Regions from separate parts of the Homo sapiens genome. Here region 1 is linked to region 2. Evidence: fine-mapped expression QTL. A gene starts in region 2. The other region holds a variant in brackets. All regions are shown on one strand. Distances are between the middles of the regions. Region 1 overlaps MARCHF2 (membrane associated ring-CH-type finger 2). Region 2 holds the start of MARCHF2 (membrane associated ring-CH-type finger 2).

The links.
Region 1: its variant is fine-mapped to the expression of MARCHF2 in prefrontal cortex (BrainSeq, PIP 0.91).

What each region holds. Positions count from the first base shown.
Region 1 is chr19:8,432,780-8,435,686 of GRCh38, reverse strand. All of the region lies in intron 4 of MARCHF2 (membrane associated ring-CH-type finger 2), which reads right to left. Among named protein-coding and RNA genes, the nearest start is that of HNRNPM, 11 kb to the left of the region's middle. The variant G/AG (reference allele first, on the strand shown) is at 1,606.
Region 2 is chr19:8,412,021-8,414,927 of GRCh38, reverse strand. It overlaps MARCHF2 (membrane associated ring-CH-type finger 2), which reads right to left and starts at 1,623. Exons shown (of 5, transcript NM_001005415.2): 1 at 1,508-1,623. RefSeq lists silencers at 1,457-1,616, 1,647-2,006 and enhancers at 1,498-1,998, 2,869-2,907.

The DNA.
Region 1 (2,907 bases), 21 kb before region 2:
GCACCTATGGTCCTAGTTACTTGGGAGGGCCGAGGTGGGAGGATCGCTTGAGCCCAGGAGGTAGAGGTTGCAGTGAGCGGAGATCACACCACTGCACTCCAGTCTGAGAGACAGGGCGAGATACCATCTCAAAACAAACAAACAAAAGAAGTGAATCCTAATGTGAACTATGGCTTTAAAGGGATAATGAAGGTTCACTGATTGTAACAAATGCACTGCTTGGGTAAACGATGTTAATAGTGGGGGAGGCTGTGCAAGTTGTGTGCGTATGGAGCAGGGTGATATACAGGAACTCTCTGTACTTTCTGCTAAATTTTGCTGTGAACCTAAAATTGCTCTAAAAATTAGTCTATAAAAAAATTTAAAAATGGCCTAGTGTGGTGGCTCACACCTGTAATCCCAGCACTTTGGGAGGCAGACACGGGCGGATCACGAGGTCAAGAAATCGAGACCATCCTGGCCAACATGGTGAAACCCTGTCTCTACTAAAAATAAAAAAAATTATCTGGGCATGGTGGCGCACACCTGTAGTCCCAGCTACTCGGGAGGCTGAGGCAGGATAATTGCTTGAACCTGAGAGGCAGAAGTTGCAGTGAGCCAAGATCGCGTCACTACACTCTAGCCTGGTGACAGAGCGAGACTCTGTCTCAAAAAAAAAAAAAAAAATTAAAAAATAAATGTTGCTTAGCGCAATGGCTCACGCCTATAATCCCAGCATTTTGGAAGGCCAAGGTGGGCAGATCACCTGAGTCCAGGAGTTCGAGACCAGCCTGGCCAACATGGTGAAAACTCGTCTCTACTAAAAATACAAAAATTAGCCAGACATGGTGGCAGATGCCTTAATCCCAGCTACTCGGGAGGCTGAGGCATGAGGACTGCTTGAACCCGGGAGGCGGAAGTTGCAGTAAACTGAGATTGCACCATTGCACTCTGGCCTGGGCGACACAGTGAGACTCCGGCTAAATAAATAAATAAATAAATAAAGGTCAGTGGTTCACATCCTTTGACCAAGCAAGTTCCCAAGAAACATTTGCATGGACAGTCCCAAAGCACTGTTCATAATGGAAAAAACAAGGAAGTAGAAATAAAACCACACACACATTGGAAAAAATCCCAGTGCCTGTCAAAAGTGATTTGTTAAATAAATATGGTCCACCCATACAATGAATGTCTGCTGGGTGGCTGCCTCGTTGTGTGTGTGGGTTTTTTTTTTTAAAGAACACCAGCAAAATGAAAACAAGCAGATGCTAAAACAGTAGCTATGATTTCATCCTATTTACATATTTTAAAATATGCTGGTAGGGGCAGGGCGCGATGGTTCATGCCTGTAATCTCAGCACTTTGGAAGGCCAAGGTGGGTGGATACCTGAGGTCAAGAGTTCGAGACCAGCCTGGCCAACATGGCGAAACCCCGTCTCTACTAAAAATATAAAAATTGGCTGGGTGTGGTGGCACATGCCTGTAATCCCAGCTACTCAGGAGGCTGAGACAGGAGAATCGCTTGAGCCCAGGAGGCGGAGATGGCAGTGAGCCAACATTGTGCCACTGCACTCTAGCCTGGGTGACAGAGCAAGACCCCGTCTCAAAAAAAAAAAAAAAAAAAAA[G/AG]AAATGCTGGTAGGTTCATTGAAAAATACTTTGTGAGGCAGGGACTCCCCTACAGCTGGACAATAGTGGTTATGTCTGAGGGGTGAGATTTGGGGGAGCTTTTGCCTCTAAGCAAGGGTTCTGCTGCCTACCAGAGGCCTAGAACAATACCTCACACCCCCATCATTCTGTCTGTCTCTCATTCAGGCTTTTTTTCTTTTTTTTTTTTTTGAGACAGAGTCTTATTCTGTCACTCAGGCACCCAGGCTGGAGTGCAGTGGCACGATCTTGGCTCACTGTAACTTCCACCTCCCAAATTCAAGTGATTCTTGTGCCTCAGCCTCCCGAGTAGCTAGGATTACTGGCATGTGCCACCACACCTGGCTAATTTTTCTTTTCTTTTCTTTTCTTTTTTTTTTTTTTTTTTGAGACGGAGTCTTGCTCTGTTGCCCAGGTTGGAGTGCAATGGTGCAATCTCAGCTCACTGCAACATCTGCCTCCCAGGTTCAATCGATTCTCCTGCCTCAGCCTCTTGAGTAGCTGGGATTACAGGCATGTGCCACCACACACAGCTAATTTTGTATTTTTAGTAGAGACACGGTTTCACCATGTTAGTCAGGCTGGTCTTGAACTCCTGACCTCGTGATCCACCCGCCTCAGCCTCCCAAAGTGCTGGAATTACAGGCGTGAGCCACCGTGCCTGGCCAATTTTTTGTATTTTTAGTAGAAACGGGGTTTCACCATGTTTCTCAGGCTGGTCTTGAACTCCTGACCTCAAGTGATATGCCCCCCTCAGCCTCCCAAAGTGCTGGGATTACAGGCATGAGCCACTGCACCCAGCCTTTTTTTTTTCCTTTTTCTTTTATTAATATTATTATTTTCTTCGAGACAAGGTCAGGCTCTATCACCCAGGCTGAAGTTCAGTGGTGCAATCTCGGCTCACTGCAACCTCTGCCTCCAGTGCTCAAGCGATCCTCCACCTCACCCTCCGGAGTAGCTGAGACTGCAGGCACGCACCACCACGGCCGACAAACTTTTGTATTTTTTCTAGAGATGGGGTTTTGCCACTTTGCCCAGGCTGGTCTCAAACTCGTAAGCTCAAGCAATCTGCCTGCCTCAACCTCCTAAAGTGCTGGGATTACAGGCGTGAGTCACCATGCCCAGCCCCTATTATTATTTTTTGAGATGGGGTCTCACCATCTTGCCCAGGCTGATCTTGAACTCATGGGCTATGGTGATCCTCCTGCTGCAGCCTCCCAAAATACTGGGATTACAGGCAGAAGCACTGCACCCAGGCTTTTTATCTTTTTTTGATACTGGGTC
Region 2 (2,907 bases):
CTCCTGGCCCTCCTGGCTATGCCACCGATGCTGGGTGTCCTGGTTCAAGTCACTTTGCTTCTCTGGGCCTCATTCTAATGATGGAGCTGGTGGACTCTGTCCGTGGAGGGGTCTCCTGAGAAGGAGCCTCCAGGCTGAATTCATCCAGTAAAGCTCACCCTTAGCTAGGCTTGTTTAGGGTGGCACTGAGGCCCCCCAGTCTTTTCCATACCTGCCCAGGCTCCTTTTCCTGAAGGTAGGAAACAGAGGGCAGAGGAATCAGAGGGCCCTAAAACTCCCTACATTGTGGTCTCAGGCAGCTGTTTTACTCTCTCAGCCTCAGTATTATCATCTCTAAAATGAGTGTTACAGGCCGGGCGCAGTGGCTCACGCCTGTAATCCCAGCACTTTGTGCACTTTGGGAGTTCAAGGAAGGTGGATCACTTGAGGCCAGGAGTTCGAGACCAGCCTGGTCAACATGGTGAAACCCCGTTTCTGCTAAAAAGACAAAAATTGGCCAGGCACGGTGGCGGGGGCCTGTAATCCCAACTACTTGACCAGGGTGAGGTAGGAATCGCTTGAATCTGGGAGGCAGAGGTTGCAATGAGCTCAGATCGTGCCACTGCATTCCAGCCTGGGCAAGAGAGAGAGACTCTGTCTAAAAAAAAAAAAGACGGGGAGTCATAATGATATGTAGTTCATAAATTAGTAAAAAATTAAGAAGTTAATAACTATTAGCTCTTATTATAATTACTATCATCAGCTTACAGAGTTGTTGATGAGAGGTCACACAGTCAACCCTGGCACACACAGTAAGTGCTCAATAAAAGCTCTATTAATATTTTTTAGGGTAAATGTGGAGGTTGTTATTGCATTCATTCCTCCCTGCATGAGAAGCAAGGTTCCAATCCCAGCTCTACTCCTTATGTGCTGTGTGGCCCTGGGCAAGACACTTAACCTCTTTGAGCCTGGACTCTCTCAACTGTATAACAGGGGACATTTCTACTGCTTCCACCTACTCAGTATGGTTTCAAAAGAACTGAATGAGCTCAACATGCCCATTTGACTACCCCGTTTTGAGCACCCACATAGCACAGGGCATCCTGTTTCAGCATCTTTGTGCAAAGTGGCTGGGTCATTATATTATAACTTACTATTTTGCAGGCAGAGCCGCTCTGAGAAGGAGGTTGGGGAAGGGCATTGGCCACTTAGCAGTTGCCTACTGTGTGTCAGGCGTTTTCTGCACCAGCCACCTCCTGAATCCTCCCAGAAGCCCCATCAGGTTGGCAATGGGATGACCCAGTTTCACAGGTGGGGAAACCGAGGCTCGGAGAGGCGCCTATGTGTGCCGGACCCCGGAGACCTCCCACCGGCCTTGACACGGGAACTGAGGTCCCCGCGTCCCCGAGAAGGCTGTGGCCAAGGGATCGAGCCCAGCCGTCCCGCCCGGGTGCCGAGCTCCGGCCTCGAACCCGGGGCCGGCCCGCGGACTGGCGTCCTCCGGCCCTACCTGCAGGCCCGTGCCTACCTGATCCGCGGCCGGGCCGGGCGGCCGCACAGGCCCCTCGGTTCGCCTCGGCCCCGGTCCCGGCCCGGCCCGGCCCGTCGGCGCCACTAGCTCCGCTCCGGCCGGCACCTGCGTCCGGGCACCGCCCGCCGAGCCGACAGCGCCGCGGACCAATAGCGACCGCCTCTCGCCTGCATTCGCCAATCGCCTTGCACGTCCCGCCCTAAGAGGCGGGGCCGGAGGCCACAGGGACGACTTGGGCCGCACAGGCCCCGCTGTGCCGCAGCTGCTGGCTCCGCCCCTGCCGCGTCTTGGCTCCGCCCCCAGCTCCGGCTCCGCCCCAGCACTGGCCCCGCCCCAGCCCCGCCCCAGGCACGAGGGGGTGCTGCTGCGCCACCTGCAGACGGCCAGCGTCCTCTAATAAATAAAACCTCTGCAGAATTTAACTTTTTTTTTTTTGAGACTGGCCGGGTGCAGTGGCTCATGCCTGTAATCGGAGCACTTTGGGAGGCCGAGACGGAAGGATCGCTTGAGGCCAGATGTTGGGGACCAGCCTGGGCAACATGGTGAGTTCCCGTCTCTACAAAAAATTTAAAAGGATGGGCGCGGTGGCTCACGCCTGTAATCCTAGCACTTTGGGAAGCCGAGGCGGGCGGATCACGAGGTCAGGAGATCGAGACCATCCTGGCTAACACGGTGAAACCCCGTCTCTACTAAAAATACAAAAAAATTAGCCGGGCGTGGTGGCGGGCGCCTGTAGTCCCAGCTACTCGGGAGGCTGAGGCAGAGGAATGGCGTGAACCCGGGAGGCAGAGCTTGCAGTGAGCCGACATCGCGCCACTGCACTCCAGCCTGGGTGACAGAGTGAGACTCTGTCTCAAATAAATACATAAATAAATAAATAATAAAATAAAATAAAATAAAAGTTAGCCAAGTGTGGTGGCCCAGGCCTGTAGTCCCAGCTGCTCTGGAGGCTGAGGCAAGAGGATCACTTGAGCCCAGGAGTTCGAGGCCAGTCTGGGCAACATAGTAAACTCACCCACCCCCATCTCTAAGACAGATCAATTTTTAAAAAAATACTGCACTATATGTTCACTTAGTATAAGCACACTTTTGCACATAATCACAGTATAACCTTCAAAATCAGAAAATTAATGTTCATCTAATATTATCATGTAATTCCCAGAGCCCATTCAAAGGCCAGGTGCAGTGACTCATGCCTGTAATCCCAGCACTTGGATCATTTGAGGTCAGGAGTTCGAGACCAGCCCGGCCAACATGGTGAAACCCTGTCTGTACTAAAAATACAAATAATTAGCTGGGTTTTGTTGTGGGCACCTGTAATTCCAGCTACTCAGGAGGCTGAGGCAGGAGAATTGCTTGAATCTGCAAGGTGGAGGTTGCAGTGAGCGGAGATCTTG